7 linked regions of the Homo sapiens genome follow. The protein of the gene in region 1 purifies or fractionates together with the protein of each later gene. This does not show direct contact. Each region holds a gene or a part of one and is shown in the gene's direction. Other genes may lie near its edges.

Evidence for each region.
Region 2: the proteins of RMC1 (region 1) and AGFG1 purify together in Homo sapiens (affinity purification with mass spectrometry; one large-scale study listed by BioGRID and IntAct). This does not show direct contact.
Region 3: the proteins of RMC1 (region 1) and SWAP70 fractionate together in Homo sapiens (co-fractionation; one large-scale study listed by BioGRID). This does not show direct contact.
Region 4: the proteins of RMC1 (region 1) and PLAA purify together in Homo sapiens (affinity purification with mass spectrometry; one large-scale study listed by BioGRID and IntAct). This does not show direct contact.
Region 5: the proteins of RMC1 (region 1) and PRSS56 purify together in Homo sapiens (affinity purification with mass spectrometry; one large-scale study listed by BioGRID and IntAct). This does not show direct contact.
Region 6: the proteins of RMC1 (region 1) and POR purify together in Homo sapiens (affinity purification with mass spectrometry; one large-scale study listed by BioGRID and IntAct). This does not show direct contact.
Region 7: the proteins of RMC1 (region 1) and UMPS purify together in Homo sapiens (affinity purification with mass spectrometry; one large-scale study listed by BioGRID and IntAct). This does not show direct contact.

What each region holds. Positions count from the first base shown.
Region 1 is NC_000018.10:23,509,943-23,513,813, forward strand, and holds part of RMC1 (regulator of MON1-CCZ1 complex), read left to right. Parts: intron 1-3,871. UniProt on the Homo sapiens protein: Component of the CCZ1-MON1 RAB7A guanine exchange factor (GEF). Acts as a positive regulator of CCZ1-MON1A/B function necessary for endosomal/autophagic flux and efficient RAB7A localization.
Region 2 is NC_000002.12:227,520,623-227,524,493, forward strand, and holds part of AGFG1 (arf-GAP domain and FG repeat-containing protein 1), read left to right. Parts: intron 1-3,140; coding exon 3,141-3,303; intron 3,304-3,871. UniProt on the Homo sapiens protein: Required for vesicle docking or fusion during acrosome biogenesis. May play a role in RNA trafficking or localization.
Region 3 is NC_000011.10:9,662,387-9,666,965, forward strand, and holds the start of SWAP70 (switch-associated protein 70), read left to right. Parts: upstream 1-1,690; 5' UTR 1,691-1,793; coding exon 1,794-1,892; intron 1,893-4,579.
Region 4 is NC_000009.12:26,944,420-26,948,867, reverse strand, and holds the start of PLAA (phospholipase A-2-activating protein), read left to right. Parts: upstream 1-1,625; 5' UTR 1,626-1,822; coding exon 1,823-1,971; intron 1,972-4,448. UniProt on the Homo sapiens protein: Plays a role in protein ubiquitination, sorting and degradation through its association with VCP. Involved in ubiquitin-mediated membrane proteins trafficking to late endosomes in an ESCRT-dependent manner, and hence plays a role in synaptic vesicle recycling.
Region 5 is NC_000002.12:232,518,838-232,523,233, forward strand, and holds the start of PRSS56 (serine protease 56 isoform 2 precursor), read left to right. Parts: upstream 1-1,550; 5' UTR 1,551-1,761; coding exon 1,762-1,858; intron 1,859-2,483; coding exon 2,484-2,591; intron 2,592-2,978; coding exon 2,979-3,029; intron 3,030-3,133; coding exon 3,134-3,323; intron 3,324-3,677; coding exon 3,678-3,777; intron 3,778-3,864; coding exon 3,865-4,024; intron 4,025-4,222; coding exon 4,223-4,365; intron 4,366-4,396. UniProt on the Homo sapiens protein: Serine protease required during eye development.
Region 6 is NC_000007.14:75,977,545-75,981,415, forward strand, and holds part of POR (NADPH--cytochrome P450 reductase), read left to right. Parts: intron 1-1,906; coding exon 1,907-2,035; intron 2,036-2,794; coding exon 2,795-2,944; intron 2,945-3,503; coding exon 3,504-3,628; intron 3,629-3,871. UniProt on the Homo sapiens protein: This enzyme is required for electron transfer from NADP to cytochrome P450 in microsomes. It can also provide electron transfer to heme oxygenase and cytochrome B5.
Region 7 is NC_000003.12:124,728,885-124,733,401, forward strand, and holds the start of UMPS (uridine 5'-monophosphate synthase), read left to right. Parts: upstream 1-1,567; 5' UTR 1,568-1,587; coding exon 1,588-1,743; intron 1,744-2,621; exon of another isoform or gene 2,622-2,720; intron 2,721-3,554; exon of another isoform or gene 3,555-3,632; intron 3,633-4,517. UniProt on the Homo sapiens protein: Bifunctional enzyme catalyzing the last two steps of de novo pyrimidine biosynthesis, orotate phosphoribosyltransferase (OPRT), which converts orotate to orotidine-5'-monophosphate (OMP), and orotidine-5'-monophosphate decarboxylase (ODC), the terminal enzymatic reaction that decarboxylates OMP to uridine monophosphate (UMP).

The sequences.
Region 1 (3,871 bases):
CCTTGGCCACTCAGCTTTAGTCTCTTGCTGGGGATTTTATTCTTTTTTTTTTTTTTTATAATTGCAAGTAATAAATTAAAAAAAAAAAAAAGAAAAGAAAAAGGGCTTGGTGGCCCATGCCTGTAATTCCAGCTCTTTGGAAGGCCAAGGTGGGTGGATGGCTTGAGTCCAGGAGTCTGAGACCAGCCAGGCCAACATGATGAAATCCCATCTCTATAAAAAATACAAAATGTTAGTCAGGCATGGTGGTGTGCGCCTGTAGTCCCAGCTACTTGGGAGGCTGAAGTGGGAGGATTGCTTGAGCCTGGGAGGCAGGAGGTTGCAGTGAGCCAAGATCACAGCACTGCACTCCAGCCTGGATGACAGTGAGACCCCATCTCAAAAAAAAAAACAAAAACACAACAACATTAAAAAGTGGGCAAAGGCCAGGTACAGTGGCTCACACCTGTAATCCCAGCACTTTGGGAGACCGAGGTGGGCAGATCACCTGAGGTCAGGAGTTCGAGACCAGCATGGCCAACATGACGAAACCCTGTCTCTATTAAAAATACAAAAATTAGCCAGGTTGGTGGCAGGCACCTGTAATCCCAGCTACTAGGGAGGCTGAGGCCAGGGAATTGCTTGAACCTGGAAGGCGGAGCTTGTAGTGAGCTGAGATGGTGCCACTGCACTCCAGCCTGGGCAACAGAGCGAGACTCCGTCTCAAAAAAAAAAAAGTGGGCAAAGGACATGAGCAGACACTTTTTAAAAGAAGACACACATGCGACCAACAAACATAAAAGAGCTCAACATCACTGATCATTAGAGAAATGCAAATCAAAACCACAATGAGAAACTATCTCACACTAGTCAGCATAGCCATTATAAAAAAGTCAAAGAATAACAGATACTGGCAAGGTTGTGGAGAAAAGGGAACCCTTATGCACTATTGCTGGGAGTGTAAATTAGTTCAACCTTTGTGGAAAACAGTATGGCGATTCCTCAGAGAGCTAAAAGCAGAACTACTGTTTGACCTAGCAGCCCCATTACTGGGTGTAATATGCAGAGGAATATAAATTATTCTACCATAAAGGCACATGCACGTGAATGTTCATTGCAGCACTGTTCACAATGGCAAAGACATGGAATCATCCTAAATGCCCATCAGTGACAGATTGGATAAAGAAAATGTGGTACATATATACCATGGAATACTATGCAGCCATAAAAATGAACAAGATCATGTCTTTTGTGGGAACATGGATGGAGCTGGAGGCCATCATCCTTAGCAAACTAACACAGGAACAGAAAACCAAATACCACATGATCTCACTTCTAAGTGGGAGCTAAATGTAAGTTATGAATGCAAAGAAGGAAACAACAGACACGGGGGGCTACTTGAGCAGGGGAGGGTGGGAGGAGGGAGAGGAGCAGAAAAGATAACTATTGGGTACTGGACTTAATACCTGGGTGATGAAATAATCTGTACCACAAACCCCGTGACATGAGTTTACGTATGTAACAAACCTTCACATCTATCCCTGAACCTAAAAGTTAAAACAAAAAACATTCAAACATTGCAAGATATGTAATATGGAAAGCAAATGTTCCCTATAATCCCGATAAATAATTATTATGAACAGTTTGGTGCATATTCCTCTATTTTTAAAAATAAATACAAACTTCTTTTTAACAAAAAGGGGAATGTTGTATATAAACTTTTGCAGCTAGCTTTTTTTTTTTTTGTCCAAAGTGTATCTTGGACATCTTTCTATATTTTATTCTGACTGGGTAGTATTCCACTGTATGGATGGACTGCAGTTTAAAAATTTTCTTGTTATTGGACATTGGCTGGTTTTCCATTTTTTTGTGATTACAAATAACCCTTCAGTAACATGCTTGTACACACTTCTTTATATTAGAGGGAGAGTTGCAGTATAGGTACGAACATCTGAAAAGCTGAACCAGTATCGCCAAATTTCTTCTAGACATGTGTATTTTCACTAGCAATATAGGAACTTCTGCTTTTCATACCTTTAGGAGGACTGGATATTATCAGTCTATAGACATTTGCCAACCTGAGAGGTAGAAAGACTTTTTTTTTTTTTTTTTTTTCTGAGACAGAGTCTCACTCCGTCGCCCAGGCTGGAGTGCAATGGTGCGATCTCGGCTCACGGCAACCTCCACCTCCTGGGTTCAAGCAATTCTCCTGCCTCAGCCTCCCAAGTAGCTGGGTCTACAGGCGCCCAGCACCACGCCTGGCTAATTTTTGTATTTTTAGAAGAGGTGGGGTTTCACCATGTTGGCCAGGCTGGTCTTGAACCCCTGGCCTCAAATAATCCACCTATCTCGGCCCCCTAAAGTGCTGGGATTACAGGCGTGAGCCACCATGCCTGGCCGAAAGACATTTTAATTTGCATTTTACATTACTAGGGAAGTAAGCATCTTTTCATTTGTATATTGTCCATTTGTATTTTGTTAACTTCCTCTTAAAATTTTTTTATTTTGTAATAATTATTTTGAGACAGGATCTCTGTCACCCAGGCTGGAGTACAGTGGCACAATCACGGCTCACTGCAGCCTCGACCTCCTAGCCTCACGTAGTCCTCCCACCTCAGCTTCCTGAGTAGCTGGAACTACAGGTGTGTGCCAGCACGCCCAACTTAATTTTTTTTTCCTTTTTTTTTTTTTGTAGAGATGAGGTCTTGCTGTGTTGCCTAGACTGGTCTTGAACTCCTAGGTTCAAGCCATTCTTCTGCCTTGGCCTCCCAGAGTGCTGGGATTTATGGGCATGAGCCACTGTGTGTGGTCAAAAATATTTTTTTTACTGTGGTAAAAAAACATACAACATTTATTATCTTAACTGTTTTTAAGTGTTCAGTTCAGTAGTGTTAAGTATATTCATTCACATTGTTATGAAATAGCTCCAGAACTTTTTTCATCTTGTGAAACCAAAACTATCCAGTAAACAACTCCCCTTATCCCTTCCCTGCAGCCCCAGCAATCTCTATTTTACTTTCTGTTTCTATGAATTTGACTCCTTTTTTTTTAAGATGGAGTCTTGCTCTGTTGCCCAGGCTGGAGTGCAGTGGCGTGATCTCAGCTCACTGCAACCTCTGTCTCCTGGGTTCAGGCGATTCTCCTGTCTCAGCTTCCTGAATAGCTGGGATTACAGGTGTGCGCCACCACGCCTGGCTAATTTTTGTATTTTTGGTAGAGATGGGATTTCACCATGTTGGCCAAGCTGGTCTTGAACTCCTGACTTCAGGTGATCCACTCACCTCAGCCTCCCAAAGTGCTGGGATTACAGGCGTGAGCCACTGTGTCCGGCCGAATTTGATTACCTTTTATACTTCATATAAGTGAAATTATACAGTATTTGTCCCTTTGTGACTGGCTTATTTCATCTACCATAATTTCCTACAGGTTCCCCCATGCCATAGCATGTGATAGGGTTTCCTTTTTAAGACTGATAATACCGCACTGAGCGTATACACCACATTTTGCTTATCCATTCATCTGTTGAGGGACATTTGGGTTGCTTCTGCCTCTTGGCCATTGTGAATAGTGCTGCTGTCAATACAGGTATGCAGATACCGCTTCAAGATCCCGTTTTCAGTTCTTTTAGATTTATACCCAGAGTGAGATTGCTGGAGCAGATGGTAGTTCTGTTTCTGAATATTTTAGGGAACCGCTATACTGTTTTCCATAGCAGTTACACCATTTTGCAATCCCTCCAAGTGTACAAGGGTCCCAGTTTCTCCATATCCTCACCAACACTTGCTGTTTTGTTTTGTTTTGTTTTTGATACTAGCCATCTTAATTGTGGTTTTGATTTGCGCTCTTTGTTGATTAGTGATGTTGAGCACTTTTGTGTGTGTGTTTTGGCCAC
Region 2 (3,871 bases), on another chromosome or scaffold:
AATTCCAACAGGTTGTACATATAGCTAGTAAGCCCCTTGCTATGGAATAGGGACTATATCTATAAAGCTAGTGTTCAGCTACTGAGGGTTCTTCATTTTTAGCTATATGAGCACAATTTAAGTTACTAAGACTCATTAACTATGAACTTTTGGTTATTTCTTTAATAGTATTGCATAGTGGATACTTTCATCTTGGGAGGTTAACAAGATGGGGCAGAGAGTCAAAATAGAGGGAATAAATAATGGGGAAGTAACGAGCTTCTTGTTTGCTTGAGGAACTCTGTTTCAACCCAAGAGAATCTGTTCAGAGCCTGTTTTGGTCCTGAGGGAACATTTGTTGTGGTTTACAGCAGAGGTCTTTACCTTCATTCAGGAGCACATTAGCTCTGACTTGCATGCTCTATCAAAATTTGTATTCTTACTACTTTCCAAAATAGACTACATTTTTCTTTTTTTTTTGGAGACTGAGTTTTGCTTTTGTCACCTAGGCTGGAGTGCAATGGTGCGATCTCGGCTCACTGCAACCCCCGCCTCCTGGGTTCAAGCAATTCTCATGCCTCAGCCTCCCAAGTAGCTGGGATTACAGGCACCCACCACCACGCCTGGCTAATTTTTTGCATTTTTAGTAGAGACAGGGTTTCGCCATGTTGGCCAGGCTGGTCTTGAACTCCTGACCTCAGGTGATCCACCTGCCTCAGCCTCCCAAAGTGCTGGGATTACAGTTGTGAGCCACTGTGCCCGGCCTAAAATAGACTACTTTTTGCAAGGCAAGATTAGTCAGGGCTATATTCAGCTGTACTAGAAGACATCAAGTATGAAAATAGATTAAAATACACCAGTAAAATTTAAGTTCAGGAAAGAAGAAAATACTAGAAGGTGGGTTGGTAGTAAAAATATGGTAGCATAAATGATTCTTTTAAAATGAAAGGTATAATTATCCTTTTATCATTTTGGTTCTGAATTTCCTAGACATTCTACCCTGTAGGAAAGACTGTTCTCCTTACATAGCCCTAACCTAGTTTTGTTTTCTCAGCCGTGTTACTTTTACCAATTCAGAAAGTGAGTTTGGTTAGGGATTAGTTTATGGTCAGCTCTAGCTATCAACAGAAAAGTGAGTGTGAGTAACAGTTGGTAGAATTAAAATCATAGATCCTTACCCCCACATTTATAACAGTAATGTATTATTCATTCAAACTATAACGCAAATACCTAGAAACCTCAAATAATTACAGTTTATGTTATTTTTTTTCTTTCCTGAGAAACAGGATAATAAGAGTTATACAAATAGAGACTTCAAGTGGTGGGACAGGTGACCATCATTAAGAGGGCCAGGACCTGTATGTTTTTAATCCAGACTGCTGCACACCTGTAACATACAGCTAGCAAGCAGTGAAATTGGTTTCTAACATGGAATAAGCACTATCCAGATGCAGCATCTCTAAAAATACTCACTGTAACTATACTTAAAACAGTGATGATGGTGTTATCCAAAGGGATTTTGAAACTGTTCTTTTGACCAGTTCTCAAAATCACTTTCTGTGTTATACTAGAAGACATCAGGTATGAAAATAGATTAAAATACACCAGTAAAATTTAAGTTCAGGAAAGAAGAAAATCCTAGAAGGTGGGTTGATAGTAAAAATATGGTAGCATATTACTTTGCCAGGTGAGTCTTTTGAACCAATAACTATCATTTGATTTTATCCTTTGATAAGACTTGGCTATACTGAAGAATTTGTATTAGTAGTATGCTAAATTATGGGAAAATATAACTTCTTGTATTCATTCTCATACATCTTTTATCTCTCCCATTTACTTGAAAGCAGTTGTTTGTGATTATTATGTAGTTTAGTGACAGTGAACACTTAGTTAACACGTATACCAGGAATTGTTCTCAGTGCTTTACAAATGTTAACTTGTTTAAACCTAGGCAACTCTGCCTCTCCATTTTATAAATGAAAAAAATGGAAGCACAAAGAGTTGAAGTATTAATAGTTTGCCCAAGGTTTCACAGCCATTTAGTGGTAGAGCTGGGATTTGAACTCTTGTCTCTGGAACAGGTGCTCTTAAGCATGGTTTTCCTTCTTTCCTCACCTACTTCATATGGGGAATAAGAAGGAGGGTAGGACAAAACCCAGAATTACAAAGAGCAAAAGCTCTCACATAATCCCACACCTAGAGGTCAGGATTGCCTATGTTTGGACATTATTATATCCTTGCTACCTCTCCTTTCTTGACTCGCCTCCTCACATAAATCATGTGTTTATATGACTGGAATCAAATCTGAAAGACCTGTGAAGTTTCCTCTTTCCATGTCAAAGCAGAGTAGCTATGAGTATTGTATTATCGTAAATTTTTTTTCCTTGATAGATGTTGGGTTTGTTTCCCAGTTTTTGTGAAATTATAAAGAGAGGACTGTGGTTAACATCCATGTGTACATGCATCTGTATACACTTACCAATTCTTAAGGATGTTTCTGGAAGTGGCACTTCTGGTGCACAAAGCACACCTATTTATATATTTTAGTAGGTAGCAATAAAAAATTGTAAAGTTCACACTTAGCTCATAGGTGAATAAAACCTTAATTTGCATTTTTGTCAGGTTAAAAGTGTTTTCATTTTTGTGTCTCCTGTCTTCTGTGAATTGCTTCTTTTGTTCATTTAAAATGGGATGATCTTATTCTTACAGATGTAATAAGCCTTTATATTTTAGGCTGTTAACTGTAATATTACAAATGTTTTCCTACCTCATCTTTCTTCAAATGTTATTTAGATCTTAAGATAATTTTAAAAATTATAGTATGAACTATTCATGGTGATGACTAATTGTAGGTCCTCTGTTTAAAAAAAGCAGTTATTTCTTATATTGTACTTAATATCTTAGAAAAACCATAAATAAGTAATTGAAACAAGTTTTGTGGTTAGTCTTCTCTTTTCTCTGAGTATTTCAAATATTTAATGGGTGTAGTCTTAAGCTGTCGTTCCTTTTTTAAAAAATATGCAAAGTTATTCTGTGTGAGAGGGTTTTCAGATAAGATTAATGGTGAAACAATCTTGTACAAAGTTAGAATTAAGCTTATCATTTTTTGATATAGAATTACCTACATTTTTTTTTAGTTAACTGTTTTTTACATGTTTTAGGTATGTCCCGCCAGAACAAGCCAAAGTCGTGGCATCAGTTCATGCATCTATTTCAGGGTCCTCTGCCAGTAGCACAAGCAGCACACCTGAGGTCAAACCACTGAAATCTCTTTTAGGGGATTCTGCACCAACACTGCACTTAAATAAGGGCACACCTAGTCAGGTGAGTAGTCTTTGAATCTTTGTAGGGAATTCGACTTAAAGAGGGCTTGAGTATCAAGAATTTGAGAATTGTTTAAGACAGCAGCATAATCTTGTATGCCAGTAGCATTATGTTCCAATGGTTTGTTATACATTAAGAAATTGTTGGTTAAGTGGTTGAAATGTATATATACTTGTTCTTTTTGCTATTGCTAATATGAGTTTCTTTGACTTCTCTGCAACTTTGTAAAGGTGAGTTATACAGGAATGTTGCTATAGCTATATATATGTGTGTGTGTGTATACATGTATATATCATGTGTTATACAATTTGTAAAACATGAATCTATGGTGACCATCAGAGTTAGAATGTATAGTCTCTTTGATACACTTTTCTAGGAAGGGATTTCTTTAGTAGTAGAGTTTTCCCACATGTGTGATTGTGAAGCATGTTGATCATTGAAACACAAGGGACTTTGCATTATACCTTATTCTTAAAAATGAACAAAATGGAATATTTTCATAAGTTGCTACCTAAAGTTTGTCTTCTACACTTTATTATAGTTGATGGGGCTGTGACAGATCTGTTAC
Region 3 (4,579 bases), on another chromosome or scaffold:
AAGCTGACTTCGCATGAATAAATCAGAGGTTAAACCATGTGGTTTTGCTGACTGGCAGACTTGGGCTGGAAATGGGGAAGATAAATGATAGAAATTGGATTCTGGTAGGGCAAGAAAAGTCCTGACAAATGGTGATGAAATGGGGTAGAACCTTCAGGACAGTCACAGTGAGGGGCTGGCCACCCTTTTGCTCCTGCCCCTTCTTTCGTCAGTGGGGCCATCCTCTCCTCTTCCCCACCAGTTCCTTTTTGATCTCAAACTCACTGAAGAGGCTCCTTCTTGTTCTTCTCTTTCCAAATATCCCTTTCTTATGAAGATCTTTTCCTTTCTTAATAAGGCAAACATGTGCATTAAGGAACTTAAAAAAGCAAAACAAAACCAAACTTCATCTGAGAACCACCTCATTTTAAAAACTCTTGGTGTTTATTGTTCTCTCCAATTAGTCCAGGATTGGAGAGGAGAGGTACTGAGCCTGGCGATTTAATCAGACCTTAGTTAACCGGCAATAGTTATTATCCTAGGATGCTAGTACTGCAAGAACCCTTCCAGAACATCTGGTGCAACCCTGCTCTTTTTATACGGGATAATTTGAAGCCCAAAGAGATCAAGTGACCATTGTGACCACCGCGAACAGATATTAATTCAACAGCTGCAATCGAATACTTTTTTTTTTTTTTTTGAGACGGAGTTTCACTCTTGTTGCCCAGGCTGGAGTGCAATGGCGCGATCTTGGTTCACTGCAACCTCCGCCTACCGGGTTCAAGCGATTCTCCTGCCTCAGCCTCCCGAGTAGCTGAGATTACAGGCATGTGCCACCACGCCCGGCTAATTTTGTATTTTTAGTAGAGACGGGGTTTCTTCATGTTGGTCAGGCTGGTCTCGAACCCCCGACCTCAGGTGATCCGCCCGCCTTGGCCTCCCAAAGGGCTGGGATTACAGGCGTGAGCCACCACGCCTGGCCGAATACGTTCTTTTAAATGGTCCATCTCTTTGGATTAGTAAAATGGGTGGAGTGATTTGGAATTGGCCCAGATCTCCTATTCTGCAAGCAGAGAAACACTACAGAGAGGTATTACCCAGGTCAAACCCCTCCTAAGATGTGAATTGAACAACAGCTAGGCGTTAGGAAGAAAATGCTGCCTGACCCTGACTTCTAAACTCCCCTTAAACGTCGTCGCTGTGTCCCTAGAACCCAAGATAGAGTATGCATGAATAAACTTTTGCGAAATGAACCAACAAACTTCCCTCGAGGTCCTTCCTGCCTCCCCGCCGCCCTGCATCTCCCCGACTTGGGACTGCGCTATCATTTCAGTCCTGGTCTGGGGACTTTTCGGGGTCTTCTCTGGCCTTCTCAGACAGTGACTCCGTTCCCAGGACAGGACCAGGGATCCCTTTTTCACTGCGGGGCGCTGGGAGGAGGCGGGTAGGCTGCTCACCTAATCTCTCGGGTTTTTCCTCAAGACGCGGTCATTTGTGTGAGGTGTTGTACTCGAGCACCCAAAATGGCCCGAACTGGTCTGGGAAACATTAGGGAGATGTGTTTACCGTCCTGGCTGACACTGAAGGCCAAGCATTCTTGCCACCAGGCGTGGCTTGACTCGCAGAACCCACACTCTGGCGGCTGTGGGCGCGGCACTGGACCGGCGCCGGCAGCAGGGCGGGGCCTGGCGGGGGCGGGGCCTGGCGGGTCAGGTGACTGCGCGGCGGGCTGTGGCTGCGGAGGTTGAGGGGCGTCCGAGGCGCGGAGGGGCTGGCTGGGCAGGAGGGGTTGGCGGGGCAGCAGGGCCGCGGCCATGGGGAGCTTGAAGGAGGAGCTGCTCAAAGCCATCTGGCACGCCTTCACCGCACTCGACCAGGACCACAGCGGCAAGGTCTCCAAGTCCCAGCTCAAGGTGGGCGCCTCCTGACCCGGCCCCCCACCCGACCCTCCCCGGCGCGCTCTGTACTTCCCTTGGGTGGAAGCGGGACCTGGCGGGCCGTGACCGCAGGGCGGGGCGGGTCGGAATGCGCCCGGTAGGCCCGCTTGGGGCGGAGTGGGTCTGAGACCGGGATTTGGTGTTTACTGCCTCCCCCTTGCCTTCGGGCCATGCCCTCGGTTGGATGTGTTAGTTCCCGCGGGTCTCCCAGGGACTGGGAAGGGTGGCGGGCATAAGGCTGGGGTGAAGTCTGGAGGGCCAAGTGTGATTCCTTCTTGGCGTTGGAGAGCGGGGGGCAGAAAGTGGATTCTGAGGCGGCAATGGGAAGCTCCCTTACACAGCCTTCCCAGAATTTTCCTCTTACTCCAGGAGAGGAAGGGACTTGCCCAAGGTCGCTGGGCAGAACCTTCTGCAGCCCACAGCCCCACACCAGGACAGTCCTCAAAACGGCTAGCTGCCCCGGAGGCGACAGGGCAGTCCGGAGACGCAGAAATGCCCCGAAGCCCGGCCTCCAGGGTCCTTCTCCTTTGGGAGGCTTTTTGACTTGGGAAGACCTTCCGCCCAGCGTCTTTTAAGTTTGGAACTAGTGGACGGGGTGTACTGTGTCCCACAGGGACCTTAGTTCCGGGTGAGGAGCGCTGATCTTTCTGGCACCCTGCAAAAGCGACTGCTTTTTCAGAGTCGTTATTGTGACTGCCGGAGACCCTAGAGTATAGGGTATAAATAAAGGGATGCTTGTAAATTGAGTAACCCCAAGCAGCGAAATTGGCATTAAGCCAGCAGAAATTGGCAGCTTCTTCAAAGTAAAAAAATATAGAAACAGACAAGAAAAGCTATTCATAGGCATTTAAAAATATACATATTTTAGATCCGAATGTCCGGTTTTCTTAGCCCCTTCTGGGAATAAATTCTGAAGATTGGGTTTGTTTTGTATATTTTTGTACAGTAATCCCGTTCTTCTGAGTAGTGGCTTTTATGCCAGTAGGACTTAACATTCTCCTTGTCTTCCTTTTGCCTCTCCTTTCTTTTTCTCACTGATAGAATCATAGTCTGGAAGGGTCCATGGAGATCATCCACGTAATTTTTATTTTACTTCATTTTTAAATATTAACATACAGTAAAATTGACTTTTGGTGTACAGTTCTATAAATTTCAACATATGTATAGATTTATATAACTATCACCACAACCATGGCTTCCTCAGTTCCATCATCCTAAAAAACTCCCTGATGTTGCCCTGCCTCCACCCCAACTGTCGGCAACCATTGATCTTTCCTAATTGCTATAGTTTTACCTTTTCCGAAGTGCCATGTAAATGGAGTCATATAGTTTGTAACTGTTGAAACTGATTTCTTTTACCCAGCATAATGCCTTAGAGATTAATCCATTTTGTTGTGTGTACCAATAATTTTTTAAATTGCTAAGTAATATTCTATTGCATGGATGTATGGTAGTTTTTAGCCATGCATCTGTGAGAATTTGTGTTATTTCCAGTTCGGGGGAGTTATGAGTAGGTCTACATTTTACTTTTATTTTTACTTTTAACTTACCTATGCCATTTTATTTAAAGTAAGTTTTTAATAAATAGATGTAGCTGGGTCTTTTTTTTTATTCATTCTGACAATCTCTGTCTTTTAATTGGTATATTTAGGCCATTTACATTTAATGTAATTATTGATATGGTTTGATTTAGGGCTACCATTTTATTATAATTTGGTTTCTGCTTTTTTTTTTTCCTCTCTTTTTCTTCCATCTTTGGGATTATTTGAATATGCTTTAGTTTTTTGTTTTTTTTTTTTCTGAGACACAGTCTTGCCCTGTTGCCCAGGCTGGAGTGCGGTGGTGTGATCTCGGCTCACTGCAACGTCTGTCTCCTAGGTTCTAGAGATTCTCGTGCCTCAGCCTCCCAAGTAGCTGGGATTGCAGGTGTGCGTCACCACACCTAGCTAATTTTTGTATTTTTAGTAGAAACGGGGTTTCACCATGTTGGCCAGGCTGGTCTTGAACTCCTGAGCTCAGGTGATCTGCCCTCCTTGGTTTCATGAAGTGCTAGGATTACAAGTGTGACCCACTGTGCCTGGCCAATATTTCATTTTAATAGAGTTTTTTACTATATTTCTTCATGTAGGTTTTTTTAGTACTTGCTCTAGGAGTTAGAATATCCATCCCTAACTTTTCATAGTGTACTTAGAGTTAATATTTTACCACTTTAAGGAGAATGTAGAAAACTTATCACCATATAGGTCCCTTTACTCTCACTGCTTTATGTTGTAATTGTCATATTTATTAATCTACATACATTGAAATCCCCATCAGACAATATTAAATTTTTTGCTTTCAACCATCATTTCTCTTTTAAAGATCTTAAGAGGAGAAGAAAATTTTATTCTTTTTTTCCAGATATTCCCAGATGACCTCTTAATTTTTTTTTTTTTTTTTTGAGCCGGAGTTGCGCTCTGTCACCCAGGCTAGAGTGCAGTGGTGTGATCTCGGCTCACTGCAACCTCTGCCTCCCGGGTTCAAGCGATTCTCCTGCCTCAGCCTTCTGAGTAGCTGGGACTACAGACACGTGCCACCAAGCCTGGCTAATTTTTGTATTTTTAGTAGAGATGGGGTTTCACCATATTGGCCAGGGTGGTCTCAAACTCCTGACCTCGTGATCT
Region 4 (4,448 bases), on another chromosome or scaffold:
TGTCTAGAGTAAGAGAGATAACAGAGGGAGATGAATCTAGTAAAACAGATTAGGGAGATTGTGTGAAAGGCCCTATGTAATGCTGTACTATAAGAATGGAAAGCCGGCCAGGCGTGGTGGCTCACGCTTATAATCCAGCACTTTGGAAGGCAGAGGAGGGCAGATTATGAGGTCAAGAGATTGAGACTATCCTGGCCAACATGGTGAAACTCGTTTCTACTAAAAACACAAAATTTAGCTGGGCATGGTGGCGCGCTCCTGTAGTCCCAGCTACTCGGGAGGCTGAGGCAGGAATCGCTTGAACCCGGGAGGCGAGGGTTGCAGTGAGCCGAGATCGCGCCACTGCACTCAGCCTGGCAGCAGAGCGACACTCCGTCTCAAAAAAAAAAAAAAAAAAAAAAAAAAAAAAAAAAAAAAAATAATGGAAAGCCATCACAGGTTGTCAAACAGAGAAAAAACAATTAAGTGTATATTTCAGAAAGATAATTATATTTTAATGTGTAGGATTGGCTGGAGAGAAGGGGTAGAAAGGCCAGAGAAATGTTGAAATAATTTAAGTAGGACTAATTGGTACAGATTTCTAACAGATAGCTAGAAATACAGATCTAGAGTTTGGAGAAGACAATATGGGAATACAGCTCTAGAAATAAGCCAAGTAGTAAATAATCCACCCAGGGAGGGGATATGATAGCAAAGAAGTATCAAAAGTCAGCATTTCAAGAATGATCTCCCAAACCAGGGGAAAAGTGATTCCAAACCTAGAGTAGGAGTTTTAGGAAGGGAGAAGTCAGAAAAGTGTGAATTGGGCTTAGCAATTTAGAAAGGTTTGTGGAAAAGTGTAGTTGGATGCGAGAGAATAGCGGATGGGAAGAAAACAAAGTAAGGAGACAGGTCATGTTTACCCTGGCACTCAATAAGGTCTGATAATGACTAGCAAGTAGCACCACGGGTGGGTGGGCGGCGGGGTTGTTAAAAATACGTATCTCAGCTCTAACTCAGACCTACTGAATCAGAATCTACATTTTAACAAGCCGCCAGAGAAAAGTAGTTATACCTTTAAAAAATTGACTTGGACCACCGTATTTGCTAAATTTGACAACAGAGAGTAGGAGATTCAGATAACTTGAAACGGAGGAATAGTTCAATGATTAATAGTTCCCAATTTGGCCTCAAGCTTTCTCGTTTTAATTGAAAAACAAGGTTAACTTGCAAAAACCTCGAGATTCTCAGGGAAAAGCAGTGAGGATGACCTAACAGTAGACACCAAACAACCTCACTCAGCCATTCCGCCATGCCCAGCGCGAAAGACTCAGGTTTAAAATATCCGGATTCGGCGCGCCGGATGTCCACGCCAGCTGGCGCGGCATTATGGGAATTGTAGTCCCGGCCCGCTTCCCGATTTACCACAAACTGTTGGGCCCGGAGTCGGAAGAGACCCGGGTTTGGGAAGGACCCCAGGGTCAGGCGTCCTGGTGGAAGGGCGGGCCTCTTTCTCTCTTGCTCAGCAGGGAGTCCAGAGCCCTGGAGGAAAGCCAGCTCAGCTCCGCATCGGCGTCGGCGGTTGGGACGCACACACTCTGCGTCATGGAGGGCTGAGGCCGATGATGAATTCCGGAGTGCCTGTCAGGCTTGCTGTGTCACTCGGCCCGCTCGGCGCGCCCCTTCCCAGCCGCCCTTCCGTACCGGCTCTCGGGCTCTTCCGGTCTCCGGCCGCCCCTTACCTGCAGGCTCTTCTCCCGCCGCGGCCCGGCGCTCTCCGAGTCGCCCCTGCGGACTGGTCTCGCACAGTGCCTGGGCACCGGGCGCCAGACAGACACTGGCCATGACGAGCGGCGCAACCAGGTACCGGCTGAGCTGCTCGCTCCGGGGCCACGAGCTGGACGTACGGGGCCTGGTGTGCTGCGCCTATCCGCCGGGAGCCTTTGTGTCCGTGTCCCGAGACCGCACCACCCGCCTCTGGGCCCCAGACAGGTGAGCGCTGGGAGTCGGGTTGCCCCGGCTGTGTTGCACGCTTCCCGGAGAGTGGAAGGAGAGTGACCCTTCCCTGTCAGTCCTGCCGTCTCTCTCTCCCCCCAGCCTTCCCTCTGCTCTCCGCTCCCTTCCAATTCTCAGACTATTAGAACTCTGTAAGAAACCATCGGGATTTAAGTGGAAAGAGCACAGGGTTGGGGGACCAAAGACCTGCCTTGTTGTGCTAACTTGACCACAGACGAGTCTCCTACCTTTTGGGCCTTCAGTTTTTGGACGATGATCTCCCAAGTTTCTTTTAGACTTGAAAATTTACTGATTGCAGTTGCACCCTCCGAAGTGAGGTAGTTTGAAGGCATCTGAAATGTCCTCTTTTTTTTTTTTTTTCGAAGAAGATGCTCTGTAGTCTTCTGTAAAATTTAATTTTTGAAGACTTTAGTTCTCAAAAATTGCACTGGTGAATCCTCTTTTCGTCCAGGTTAGAATTTTAGTCTGTGGTCTGTGCTGGTCCTGAGGGAGTGAAACCTCTCGGATGTTTTGTTTCTGTGCATGTGCTGTTTCTTGAGGAGAAGCAGCATCCATTGCCTTCAAAGGATTTATCAGAAGGGTTCACGAACCAAAAAAAAAAAGAAGAAAAAGGTTAGGAATCAGTCCTGATCGAGTTCACGGGTTCAGCCCTGATTTGGCTGGTTGTAACAGGATATTTAAGACCTAGAAGACAGATTGCAGTTCAGAGAAAGAAAAATTGAGGTTAGTTATTTTGTTATTTAGTAGGTCTCCCACTGCTAGAGATTTTAGAATTTGAGTCACCATCCATAAATTCAGTTGATAACTGTTGAGTGCCTCCTCTTTGTTTGGGATACTGGAGAGGAATAAAGACAGACAAGTTGCCAGTGTTTCTGGAGCTTTCTTACAGTCTGATGGGGAAGATAGATTAAAAAACAAGCCAATAAATAATTAAAAACTGGCATGTGAAGAAAACATACAGTTAATTAGGTGGAGAGATATATTAAAGGAAGCCTCTCTGAGGAGTTGTTTGTTTAAAGTTGACATTTGAAGCATGAGATGGATGGAGCTGGTCGTGGAAGAGCAAATAGGGAGGATTGAATTGGAAGAGCATTCCAGGCAGCTGGAGGAGCAAACAGGAGGGAATTAGCTGTGAGGTGAGGGCAGGTTTTGAGGCTGGCAAGAGCCAGGTTATGGAGTTTGCAGATGGAAGCCTTCAAATAGTTTCAAGCAGGGAGCAACATGATCTGATTTCCGTGTTGAGAAGTTTCTGCTAGCTGATGGTAGAGAATAGATTGAGAAGGGATAAGTGTAGAAGTGGGTTTGCTTGGAGGCTTTTGAAGTAGTATAATCAACACAAGATGGTCCACTAGGCTAGGGATAGTATAGAGCAAATTCCTGTATTGAATTGAATGAGATGATCTCTAAAGATCTAACTCTAAAATTCTATAATATCCAAAACTACTTAGTAATACTAATATGGAACTTTTTGTTTGAGTACAGTTATTAAGTTTTTGCCTTTAAAATTGAATCCAGTAGAAGCATAAGCCCAGTAGAATATAACCATTGCAGTAAGGAGTATAATCAAGGATGCCTGTTTTAATAATGGAATCCTGTCATTAAACTTTTGGGACTGTACTAGTTTGACAAGGGTTTAATCACTGGAGTGGTTGTGCTTACCAGGAACTTGAAGAACTTTGGGCTGAACTGATTCTCTATTTGAAAAGTGATTTTGTTGTTCATTGAACTATTGATTTTTTTTTTTTGAGACAGAGTTTTGCTCTTGTTGCCCAGGCTGGAGTGCAATGGCACAATCTTGGCTCACTGCAACCTCCGCCTCCGGGGTTCAAGCGATTCTCTTGCCTCAGCCTCCCAAGAAGCTGTGATTACAGGCATGTGCCACCATGCCCGGCTAATTTTGTATTTTTAGTAGAGATGGGGTTTCTCCATGTTGGTCAGGCTGGTCTTGAACTCCTGACCTCAGGTGATCTGCCCACCTTGGCCTCCCAGTGTTGGGATTACAGGCGTGAGCCACCACGCCTGGCCGAACTCATGATTTTTTTGTTTTTGTTTTTCAAAATTCATTCCTGTATGTATTTATCTAACACTGATGAAGAACTTGCATTTTGCCACAGTGTGTGTTAGTGCGTAGTGAGATAAGATTATTTAGTCTCTCATATCCTGCTGGTTAGGTTAGCAAGCTTGTCCATCCTGTGGCCCATGGGTGGCTGTAAGAGTGGCCCAACACAAATTTCATAAACTTTCTTAAAACATTATGAGGCTTTTTTTGTGATTTTTTTAAAAATGCTCATCAGCTATTGTAATTATTAGTGTATTTTATGCGTGGCCAAAGACAATTTTTCTTCCAATGTGGCCCAGGAAAGTCAAAAGATTGGATACCCCAGGGTTAGAGTGTTTCATAGTCATTAGGTGATTAAGCTCTTATTGATGCCAACTGAAGTGTCTCAACCATA
Region 5 (4,396 bases), on another chromosome or scaffold:
ACGCAGAAAGTTCCCTCCATTTTCTTTGGCAGTGGCTGGATTCTCACCCTGCCTCCCACCTGAAGACCAGAGGCAGGAGGGAGGCCCAGGGGCTCTGTGTGGGCTTGCTGTGGCCTGGCCTGCGTGACTCGGCAAGAATGGGCAGGACATACCTTCCTGGAGGCATGCCCTAGGGGAAGCGTCCATAGAGCTGCCTGGGTGGCTGGCTCCATCCCTATCCCCTCAGCTTGGATGCAGTAACCTGCAGGGCAGAAGCTCTGTTGAAGCTCTGTCGAATCCTCACAGAGGCCTGTGAGGATTTCCCACCCACCTTCTCTGCTCCTGGGTCCCCTGCTTTGGTGGCTCTTACTGGGAACCGCAGGCGATCTTCCTTTGGACACTGTCTCTGTTTATGCTAAAATTCAAGCTGTGTTGAGCTAATGCCTTATCTACCAAGATTGTGGAGGTCATGGATAAAAAGATACCCTGCAAGATGGACAGATACTCTGGTGAATAGAGTCCTTTCCAACTTCACCAAATTCACTCACCAGAATCATCCGCAGACAGTATTTTCAGAGCATTCCTGAAGTAGAGGTATTGTCATGGCGAGGTGCGGTGGTAACTGGGGAAAGGGCTCCTTAGCATGGTGTGCTGGTCACTGTGGAACAGCTGGCTCTCCAGGGGGAAAGAGCCCCGGGTCATAGCATTTGCTGATAAATATTCCCACCAGTTCACCTCACATGAATTGGGGAGCCTGGGCAGCGCAGACGGGCACTATCCTACCCCAGGTGGTAACTCAGTCCCAGGAGAGCTGTGTGGCCCTGCCCATGAGACTCCAGAGGACTCCAGAAGAATCCCACTGCCAGATCAGGGTCACAGAACAATGCCGGACAGGCAGAGCGGGCACTGTGCAGGGCCAGGGGGTCTGGGAGAGCGTCAGAAGCTGCTAGGGCCTGTCCTCCCGGAACTGGGCCACTGTGGGCCTTTCATCTCCCGCCTCCCTTTCCGCGCCACTCCTGCGGCTGCCTGCCTCTGCCCCTTCCCACCCCACCACCCCCAGTGCGGCAATTACGGCGCTAATTAGGCTGCTTTGATCATCTTTAGAAATGGCCACATTGGGGAGGGACTCTGCCAAGCAATTAGGGGCAGAGGGGTGGGGAGCTCCAGGGCTTCCTCAGGGGGTGGGGCTGCTGAGAAACCCCAGACACCCCCTGCCCTCCTCCCTCCAGGAGTGTCTGCCCCGTCATAGCTGTAAGCTCCTCAGGGGGTAGAGGCAGATGGGGATCCCCCCCCATCCCAGCCCTGGAGCCAGGGCCCGCCCCCACCCAGCAGCCCCCCTCTGCCTGGCCTGCAGCCCAACCGTCAGCCCTTCTTCCCTGTCTTGGCCCCTTTGATGGAGCCGCAGAAACAAGGGCTCCTTTGACAGAAGGGGGGCTCGGAGCTGGGATGATGAGACTTCAGAGGTGAAGGTCAAGCCCACTACCCCACTCCTCCCCCAGTCTTGGCCACCCTCCCGTGCACCCCTCCCCCAGGCTGTCCTCTATAAAGACCCTGCAGCCCCATTCCCCTGTGGGCTCCTAGGAGTTAAGGGCCAGGTGAGGGCTGACCAGGGAGGCGGGTAATTTTGATGTAAGAGAACGGGGTCAGATGATTTGAGGGACAAGAATTCAGTGCCCGGGGGCCGAAAGGCAGCAGAAGGCGGGCACCAAAGGATAGGCACCCGGAAGGTGGACTCCGAGGAGGAGAGAGGACAGGGGTCTCTCACCCCAGCTCCTGGTCACCATGCTGCTGGCTGTGCTGCTGCTGCTACCCCTCCCAAGCTCATGGTTTGCCCACGGGCACCCACTGTACACACGCCTGCCCCCCAGCGCCCTGCAAGGTAAGTCCAGGCTGGCCCGAGAGCCGCGGGGTTGGGAGGAATGTAGAGGAAGTGGGACCCTGGGCGGGCGGGGACAGAAGAGCTTGTCACCCCCACTCATAAGGACCTTTGGCTCCTTCTGCCCACCCTGCTGCGAGAAGGGGCCAAGAACTGAGATATAGGTGGGAGAGGAGGGGTGTGGCGGGAAAGGGAAGGGGAGCTGTTGAGCATGCCGAAAGGAATGGAGAGAAGGCCCCAAGAAGCAGAGAGAAACGGCCCGGGGCAGCACCCTGCCCTTGGCTGTCCCGGCCGAAGGTGGGCCACTCAAACACAGCTACTTTCAGTCAATAAAGCTGAGTTCTGCGATGTCTGTATCTTTGGGGTGGTGTCTTTAAAAAAAATTGTTAAGGAAAAGCACCTTTCAAAGATCCCAGTCCAGCTCAGTTGAATTAGGGAGACATCTTGGGCTGAGAACCTGGGAGCACGGGCTCTGAGTGCTGGGCCCAGCGTCCCCGGGGCTCACTTGCCTCCTCATTCTGTCCCAGGCTGGTGGGTCTCCCGAGGCAGGGCTCAGGGCTGGGGCCAGGAGGATGAGGCTGAGGCTCTTCCCCAACCACGCATGATTGTGTGCCCCCTGTCCCAGCAGTTCTGTCGGCCCAGGGGACTCAGGCGTTGCAGGCAGCCCAGAGGAGCGCCCAGTGGGCAATAAACCGAGTGGCGATGGAGATCCAGCACAGATCGCACGAGTGCCGAGGTGCCCACCCTGCCCCCCGTGCCCCAGTGAGCTTGCTGCCTACCCTGGGCCCATTCTGCTGCCTCTGTCCCTTCCCTTCAGTCTTCACTCTCCTCTTGGGGGCAGAGACTGTGTTGGGCCGCAACCTAGACTACGTTTGTGAAGGTCTGTCTCTCCGAGTGGAAAGGACACGCTAGGCTTGGGGCATGGCCTGTGCAAAGGCAGGGAGGCGGAAACACTCTGGGCTCCTGTGGTGACCAGGAGAAGTTCATGGTTGCTGAAATAGAACCCGTGTGGGCTGGAGGGCTGAGCGCGAAAGGAGAGATGGGGAGAGAGAGGCTCGGCCCAGCCTGGGGTGAGGACAGGCGAGAGGGCAGCAGTGAGACTCAAAGGTCTGTTTCTCTGCAGGATCTGGGCGCCCCAGGCCTCAAGCTCTCCTCCAGGACCCACCTGAGCCAGGTGAGGTTGAAAAGGCTCGAGGGGGCAGGCCTGAGAGCCGGGTGGGCCTCGAAGGCGAGGATGGCCAGAACATGTCCCTCGTGACACCCCTTGCCCCTTTCTAGGGCCGTGCGGCGAGAGGCGTCCGAGCACTGCCAATGTGACGCGGGCCCACGGCCGCATCGTGGGGGGCAGCGCGGCGCCGCCCGGGGCCTGGCCCTGGCTGGTGAGGCTGCAGCTCGGCGGGCAGCCTCTGTGCGGCGGCGTCCTGGTAGCGGCCTCCTGGGTGCTCACGGCAGCGCACTGCTTTGTAGGGTAAGTAGGACCCCCAGGCCTTGCCCAGCTGGGGTCCCCGGCGCTGGGCCCCGCACCTGCCGGGTTGTCCGGCGGGCGACGCGCGGGAAAGGTGGTCTCTGCTGCCCCCTGGCGGCGGCCGGCCCCGGGCTTCCCCATCTCAAGGCGCCGCGCCCGCCCCGCCAGGATGCCAGCCCGGAGGGGGTGGCACGGCCGGGCGAGTTCGCCCCCTCTGGGACGGGACCCCTCCCCGGCCCGCCCTCCGTGCCCCCAGGTGGAGAAAGCCCGGCATGCGGGCGGAGGGGCAGGGTCTCCGAGGGGCCTGCGGGGTGTGCCCCTGTCCTTCCTGCGTCTCAGCTGCCGCTCGACCCGCAGCGCCCCGAATGAGCTTCTGTGGACTGTGACGCTGGCAGAGGGGTCCCGGGGGGAGCAAGCGGAGGAGGTGCCAGTGAACCGCATCCTGCCCCACCCCAAGGTGAGAAGGCAGTCCCCAGGCCCCCAAGGCTGGGCACCGCACCCCCACCCGTGCTTCCTTGACCCTGCGCCGCCTCCCCCTCCTCAGTTTGACCCGCGGACCTTCCACAACGACCTGGCCCTGGTGCAGCTGTGGACGCCGGTGAGCCCGGGGGGATCGGCGCGCCCCGTGTGCCTGCCCCAGGAGCCCCAGGAGCCCCCTGCCGGAACCGCCTGCGCCATCGCGGGCTGGGGCGCCCTCTTCGAAGGTACTGGGCGTGGGTGAGCCGGCGCGTGGTGGGAAGAACTGGGGGTCCGAGGTAATAGAGTGTAGGGAGGCCGGGTTGCCTTGGAAAAATGCTGCCTGCTCTTTCAAAGGGGGAGGAATCAAGGGGGGTGGTGGGAAGGGGACCCTCAAGGCGGGGCTCTTGCCCTCCAAACCTGAGCCTTCCACCCCTTCCCTGCAGACGGGCCTGAGGCTGAAGCAGTGAGAGAGGCCCGTGTTCCCCTGCTCAGCACCGACACCTGCCGAAGAGCCCTGGGGCCCGGGCTGCGCCCCAGCACCATGCTCTGCGCCGGGTACCTGGCGGGGGGCGTTGACTCGTGCCAGGTATGAACCCAGTCTGATGAGAAAAGGCCGG
Region 6 (3,871 bases), on another chromosome or scaffold:
GTGGGCAGATCACCTGAGGTCAGGAGTTCGAGACCAGCCTGGCCAACGTGTTGAAACCCAGTCTCTACTAAAAATTCAAAAAAATTAGCCTAGCATAGTGGTGGGTGCCTGTAATCCCAGCTACTCAGGAGGCTGAGGCACGAGAATTGCTTGAACCCAGGAGGCAGAGGTTGCAGTGAACTGAGATCGTGCCATTACACTCCAATCTGGGCGTCAGAGCGAGACTCCGTCTCACACACAAAAATAAAAAAAAGAAAAGAAAAAAAGAAAAATGCCTTAGGCACTGAAGACCAGGCACTGCAGAGAACCTCACATGTGCATGAGGGGCCAGGAAGCCTTGGCCTCCCTTCCACCCTTCAGATCTTGCAAAGCACGTTCAATTGGCTGAACCGAATTGGCTGCAACTCCAGCCCCAACGGGCTCTGGGGAATAGGATTTCAGGCTTTTCAACAGCTGCTGGAGGAGGAGGGTGGACTGACGAGTATGTGAGCCAGCCCCTAGGACCTTTCCCTGTTGTAAAATTTTATAATGAATATGTATTTAACCAGCAAAACACATCCAGAATGCCCCATTTAGGGACCCTCGGTATATTTCTTGCCAGTCTGTTTTCTTTGTGCCTGTGGGTATAGAAAGAAAATACATATGTATGTTTTGATATACATATCTATTATTTATATAACACAATTGGATTGTATAGCCAGCCCTGCATATCCGTGAGTTCGGAGTTCAAGAATTCAACTGCAGACTGAAAATATTTGGAGAAAAAATGGATTGTTGTGTCTGTCCTGAACACATACTGTCATCTTACTGTTCCCTAAACAATACAGCATAGCAACTATTTACAGAGAATTTACATTACATTAAGTATTACATTAATAAGTAATCTAGAGATGATTTAAAGTATGTTGGAGGATGTGTGTAGGCTACACACAAATACCACATCATTTTATAGCAGGGACTTGAGCATCCTTGGATTTTTGTTTTTTGGGTTTTTTTGTGATGGAGTTTTGCTCTTGTAGCCCAGGCTGGAGTGCAATGGCGCGATCTCGGCTCACCACAACCTCTGCCTCCCAGGTCCAAGCGATTCTCCTGCCTCAGCCTCCCAAGTAGCTGGGATTACAGGCATGTGCCACCATGCCCGGCTAATTTTGTATTTTTAGTAGAGACAGGGTTTTCTCCATATTGGTCAGGCTGGTCTTGAACTCTCGACCTCAAGTCATCCACCCGCCTTGGCCTCCCAAAGTGCTGGGATTATAGGCGTGAGCCACTGGAGGTGGAGTCTTGCTCTGTCACCCAGGCTGGAGTGCAGTGGCGTGTTCTCAGTTCACTGCAACCTCCACCTCCTGGGTTCAAGCTGTTTTCCTGCCTCAGCCTCCCTAGTAACTGGGATTACAGGTGCACGCCACCATGCCCGGCTAATTTTTGTAGTTTTAGTAGAGATGGAGTTTCACCATGTTGGTCAGGCTGGTCTTGAACTCCTGACCTCAGGTAATCTGCCAGCCTCAGCCTCCCAAAGTGCTGGGATCACAGGTGTGAGCCACCACGCCCGGCTGCATCCTTGGATGTAAGTATCTATGGGAGGTCCTGGAACCATTCCCCCACGGATAGGGGCTATACATTTGGTTACTTTTTTTAACTTTGTTTTTTCCCCGTGTCATGAAAATGTCAGAAGTGTGATCTTGAGCAGCCGCGTGTGTGAGATTGCCTTGGTGACCTTTGCCCTCCTTTGCCACAGTGGCTGTGACAGTGAGAAGCAAGTCCCAGAGGAACTTAGAAGGGACTCAAAGCCAGGAAGGAAAGGGGGCGGCCTGGAGGGCCCCCGCCTGCCAGGCCTGCCCAGTGGGTGTTCACCGGAGCCGTGGCTGAGGTCTGTGGCCCTCACCAACCCTGTGTCTGCCTTCCTTAGGGGAGGAACATCATCGTGTTCTACGGCTCCCAGACGGGGACTGCAGAGGAGTTTGCCAACCGCCTGTCCAAGGACGCCCACCGCTACGGGATGCGAGGCATGTCAGCGGACCCTGAGGAGTATGACCTGGTAAGCTGCCACCGCGTGCTGGCCCCAGATGGAGGCAGTGGGTAGGACAGGGAGCAGGTCTGTAGGGCGCCCCTCAGCAGGGGGAGGCCGGCAGGGAGTGGGGTCCTGGGAAGACGTCCTCGGAAGTTGCCTTCCCGTGAGGGTCATTGCCATCCCTGCCCGGGCTGACTGACGGAAGGGCCATTCCTGCAGTTGCAGCCACGTGCCAGGCATCGTTTCCCCAGGACTGGCCCTCCCCTGAGTGCCGGCTGCCCTCCTGGCGGCCGCCACATCTCCCAAACCAAACCCACCCTCCCCAGCTGCTCCACTCCCCTCTCCTTCGAGGTCTTGGTGACGGGCACTACCCCACAGCCCTCTCCAGGCTGCATTTGCAGTTGATGAACAGTTTAGTTAGATATCAGTGTGCACCGGGGCTGTGCGGTGCCTGGGAGCTTTGGAATGAGGTTCCCAGGGTGGCCCCAGACCTGCATCAGCTCAGGAGGCTGCATTCTGATGGCTCTTTTGTGCCAAGCTTCACTTTCCTCTAGAAACACATCCTCTCCGCTCCAGCCTAACACGGGTGACCTTGTCCTGCCCACCTGGCACAAATGCCCATGCCCCAGCCCCTCCGTGTTGTTACTTCTCTCTGATCCCACGACACTCAGACATCCCTGGCCTGGTGCCACCCTGGGCAGGACCTGGCCTTCCCCATCTGGTGCGGGTTGAACCTTGAACAGGCTCAGTCATGGCCGGGGCGCGGTCCTGTCCCTGTTTCTGCAGGCCGACCTGAGCAGCCTGCCAGAGATCGACAACGCCCTGGTGGTTTTCTGCATGGCCACCTACGGTGAGGGAGACCCCACCGACAATGCCCAGGACTTCTACGACTGGCTGCAGGAGACAGACGTGGATCTCTCTGGGGTCAAGTTCGCGGTGAGTCACCCAGAGACTGCTATGGGCTCCCGGTGGCCTGCGGTGCCTCCCTGGGGACTCCAGATCCATGTATCTGAAAGGCAGCCCTCCAGACCCCCACCCTGTCCTCAGCAGCCAGGGCAGGCCACTTGTGAGACCCTCTCCTCTGCCCCAGACCCCAGCACTACGAGAATGTCCCCTCCCTGTCCCCAGCCCCAGTCGGCTCCAGGGGGCATTGGGTGCTGGAGACTAAAGGCAAGAAAGGTCTGGCTGGACGACTGAGACCTGCCTGGCCTCGGAGAGCTGGAGCCCCAGCCCGGTGGGGAGGGTGGGCTGGCCCCGCTTCCCTGTGGGTTGAGGCTGGCAGTGGACGGGGCAGGCTGTGGGCTGCAGGTCAACCAGATGAAGCCTCTTCAGTGGCCCAGTGTTCCTTGCAGTGCGAGGCGCCTGGTGGAACGGAGGCCTGCAGGTGTTGCCAGCAGCTCAGCCAGTGCTGTGGGGCCTCCCGCCCTGCCCCCATGGCCCCTCCCACTGGTCAGGTCGAGGGCCAGGCCTCAGAGCGGCCCCTGTGTCCACGCAGGTGTTTGGTCTTGGGAACAAGACCTACGAGCACTTCAATGCCATGGGCAAGTACGTGGACAAGCGGCTGGAGCAGCTCGGCGCCCAGCGCATCTTTGAGCTGGGGTTGGGCGACGACGATGGGAAGTGAGTGCCCACCCTGCCACCATGATCAGCGCGGCGGGCTTAGGCAGGGGCCGTGGAACGTGAGGGGCGCGCACACCATTGTGTCAGCTGAGACTCAGCGACACGCACCTCCAACACAGAGGGAAGGGGCTCTCCTGCCTCTGCCCTGCCCCTGCCAGTTTTGCTTTTCGGCTTGCCCAACTCCCTGGAGCCTTCCTGATGCTCTGGGTTTATGTCGCTGGGTGCCCCAGGGTGCACAGTCCT
Region 7 (4,517 bases), on another chromosome or scaffold:
CAAGATGGTCTTGATCTCCTGACCTCGTGATCCGCCCGCCTCAGCCTCCCAAAGTGCTGGGATTACAGGCGTGAGCCACCGCGCCCGGCTTCTTCATTCTATTTTTGAGAAAATTGAGACTCATATAGCTCAAAATGCATTGCCAAAGATCACTCAGCCAGTAAGTAGAATGGGACTAAAATCCAAATGTTTTGGTTTGAAACTTCATGTTCTTTGTAGTGCACTATACAGCTATGCCTTATCTGTTCCTCTTTTTTAAAAAAGTATTTGTTATAGTTGACACATGATATCGTACACATTTATTGGGTACATAGTGCTATTTCAATACACACAATGTACAGTGATCAAATCAGAGTAATTCATATATTCCTCACCTTAAATATTTATCCTTTCTTTGTGTTGGGAACATTCAAACGCCCCTCTTCTAGCTATTTTAAAATATATAGTAAATTATTATTGACTACAGTCACCCTACAGTGCAATGGAACACTAGGACTTATTCCTCCTATCTAGCTGTAATTTGTGTCCTTTAACCACCCCCTACCCTTCCCAGCCTCTAGTGATTACTATTTTATTCTCTAGCTCCATGAGATCAACTTTTTTAGCTTCTGCATATGAGCGAGAACATTTGGTATTTATCTTCCTGTTCCTGGCTTGTTTCACTAACATAATGTCCTTCAGGTTCATCCACCTTGCTGCAAATGACAAGGTTTCATTCTTTATGTGAATTTAAGGGTTATTTTCCTTAAGCTAGAATAAAGTATTGCCTTATATACACAATGGAGAAGGGATTTATTTGTACAGATTATTTATTGATTATTTCTTTAAGGGATTTATTTGTAAAGACCAAATATGTTTGGATTTTCAGATTGTCTAGCAATATTATCCTCCTGGATAACCCTGATACCAATCAATTAACCGTCTTCTAACTCTCCTCCTTCCCTCCCTTACCTTTTCTACACCTATTACCTAAGCATTTGAGGTACGCCAAAGGAAATAAAAAAGTACTCCTCCAGGAAGCAGAGTACAGACAAAAGAGGTAATGAATACTGTAATGATCTAAGTGCTATATATTCCTATGTGCAAACTGCTATGGAACTGTCACGTACTAGATGCTATGAAGTTAATAAAAGAATTGAGTAAAGGTCCCTGTCTTTGATAACTTATATTCTATTTGGAGAAACATGGGGGGTAAATCTTGGCTAATAACTAGCAAATATAACATGTTAGGCCAAGGAGTAGAGATAATTAAGAGAACTAGTCGAGAAGGCATTGGCTATTAAAAAATGGACAGGATTTATGCAAACTCTCATGAAAGGTGGGACTTCATGATCCTACAGTCAATCTAGCTGTTCTGGGCTTTGAACCCCAGCGACCCCATCCAGAAGAAACCAGGAGAAGCACAAACTGGCGCTAGGTTCGCTACCATCCACCTGACCCTTGAGCCCGGGGAAACCCACGGGTGCAGCAAGCCGGGAAAGCTGCAGACGAGGCAGGCGGAAGAGGCGGGACTTCGCGGGTGACGTCATCGGGGCGCCGGAGGCCCGGGGCGCCTGGGAATTTGAAGCAAACAGGCAGCGCGCGACAATGGCGGTCGCTCGTGCAGCTTTGGGGCCATTGGTGACGGGTCTGTACGACGTGCAGGCTTTCAAGTTTGGGGACTTCGTGCTGAAGAGCGGGCTTTCCTCCCCCATCTACATCGATCTGCGGGGCATCGTGTCTCGACCGCGTCTTCTGAGTCAGGTGCTGGCCTAGGAAGGGAAAGGACAGGGCTTGGTGGCGGGAAGGAGGACAAGGAAATGGAAGAGGGTGACAGGAGTTGGGCCGTGAGTGAGAGCAAAAGAGCCAAGCAGGCAGACCGACCCTACTCTTGGTTTGGGGAGTAAGCATGAGAAGCACAGAGGCCAGGGGTTGGGCTCCTCGAGAGTCGTCTGTTCTTTCACCCACACGCTTAGACACGTGTTTTGCAAAAGTCGGGAAACCCAGTTTGGAACGCTTTCTGGCACTGAAGCACACTTGAATGAATTCTGTATATTTAACTCTTTAAGAAAATTAGACTTGCGGCCGGGCGTGGTGCCTCATGAGAGTAATACCAGCACTTTGGGATGCCTAAGTGGGCAGATCACCTGAGCCCCAGGAGTTCGAGACCAGCCTGGGCAACATGACGAGACCCCGTCTCTACAAAAAATTAGCTGGGTGTGGTGGCGCACGCCTGGGACGCTGAGGTGGGAGGATCACCTGAGCCTGGGAGGTCAAGGCTGCAATGAGCTGTCATTGCGCCACTGCACTCCAGCCTGGGCGACAAGTGAGACCCTGCCCTCAAAAAACAAACAAATAGACCGGGAAAACGTGGGTAGGCAGAGAATTCAGTAGCTGGGAAATTACTGGTGAGAAAAGGAAAATAGAACAACCAGAACTCTGTGATGTATACAAAATTTATCAGAGCCCAGAGAGACTTCAACCATACTCCCCTATGCAGCCCCGGGACAATTATTTAAAGGAATTTTGTCCCTGACTAGCTGCCTCTCCCATTATCTTAATGTACCTGGAATGTGTGATACAAAGAACAATGTATAGCTAATCAATCGCTTGTGTTATTATTTTATTTATTTATTTTTTAGATGGGATCTCTCTTACGTCACCCAGGCTGGAGTGCAGCTCTGTGATCATAGCTCACTGCAGCCTGGAACTCCTGGGCTTAAGAGATCTTCTTGCCTCGGGTGAGCACAGGGGCTCATGCCTGTAGTCCCAACTTTGGGAGGCTTTCTTTGGGAGGCTGAGGCGGGTGGATCACTTAAGGTCTGGAGTTCGAGACCAGCCTGGCCAACATGGTGAAACCCTGTCTCTACTGAAAATGCAAAAATTAGCTGGGCATGGTGGTGCACACCTGTAATCCCAGCTACTCAGGAGGCTGAGGCAGAAGAATCAGGAGGTTGCAGTTAGCCGAAATTGAGCCACTGCACTCCAGCCTGGGCAACAGAGGGAGACTGTCTCAGAAAAAAAAAAAAAAAAGAGATCCTCTTACCTCAACCTCTGAGTAGCTGGAACTACAGGCATGTGCCATCATGCCCACCAAATTAAAAATTTTTTTTTTTTGTAGAGAGGAGGTCTCACCATACTGCCCAGGCTCGTCTCAAACTCCTGGCCTCAAAAGATCCTCTTGCCTTGGCGGCTTCCCAAGTAGCTGGGACTACAAATGCCTGGTGCCACCCCCGGGCTACCTCCTGTTATTTCAATGCAAATTCTTGGTGAATATAGGAACTGCCCCTTCTTTTGCTTTAAAAATCCACTTGTAACTACTGTAATCGAAGCCTATAGTCAGGGCAACTACTCATATTAATTTTGCCTCAGCCTCTTCCTGTTAGGTCCACACTTGGAAGGGCTGTTTGGAAAGGGGAGTTGAATTTTGCACTGTGCGGCCAGAAGCAATAATTAAGACTAGAAGGTGGACATATTGGGAAAGCAGGTTTTTAGTCAATATAAGGAAAATTTTTGTACAAATTAGAGGTTTCTAATACAGTGCTTCTCAACTTTGAGTATATATGAATTACCTGGGAATTTTGTTAAAATGCAGAATCCATTTCTGTAGCTCTGAGACTAGACCTGAGGTTGTGCATTTCTAACAAAGTGCCAGCTGAAACTGCAGACCACACTGAGTAGAGGGCCGTAAATATGCTTTCCAATACAGTTTGCTACTAGCCACGTGTTACTATTGAGCATTATGAATTTTTAAGTTTAAATAGTCATATATGGCCAGTGGCTATCATATTGGACTGCAAAGATAGAGAACATTTCCATCATTGCAGAAAGTTCTATCAAGAAGACATATAAGTTTCCTCAGCCCACTTAAGGGTTTATGTTCACTAGGGACCACTTTGTGTGGTTATTGTAAAAAGTATTGAAGATAGGTTGGACTATTAAGGTTGCGGTACTTTGGACCATTAACTTCTCACCATCCAGAATCTTGCTATGGTGTATCTTAGCAATGTGGAGAATTACTAAGGATTTTCTAGGGAAAAATTGATTTATTTTAATAAGCCAGCTGATAAATGACAGAAAAAGTTTTTTGATAACTAGATCATGGTGTGTGTGTGTGTGTGTGTGTGTGTGTGTATTTTGGTGATTAACTGGGGAGGAGTTCAAAACATGGAGAGACTTGGGTATAACAAAACTTCTTTTCACATCTTATGCGAATAGAATTTCTCAGTATTTACACCCCAAAAAGCAATATAATTTATGCTAAACTCTAACTTCCCTTAATAAGTGATAATAAGTGATATTTGACTATAGTACTATATACACATTAGTGTACATAAAGTAATTGGAGAGGAAAGGTAGCATTAACTCACTAAAAATGCATTTTCCAAATCTGTTTTTATCTCTCTGTCAAAATTTGCAAATCATGTTTGAATTAATCATATGCTTGTTATAATTTAATGATATACAGAAGAATTCTCTTCTTTAAAAAGTACAATTTCCATTTTCTTTTCCTCAAGAGAATAGTTTCTCTTCAGTCC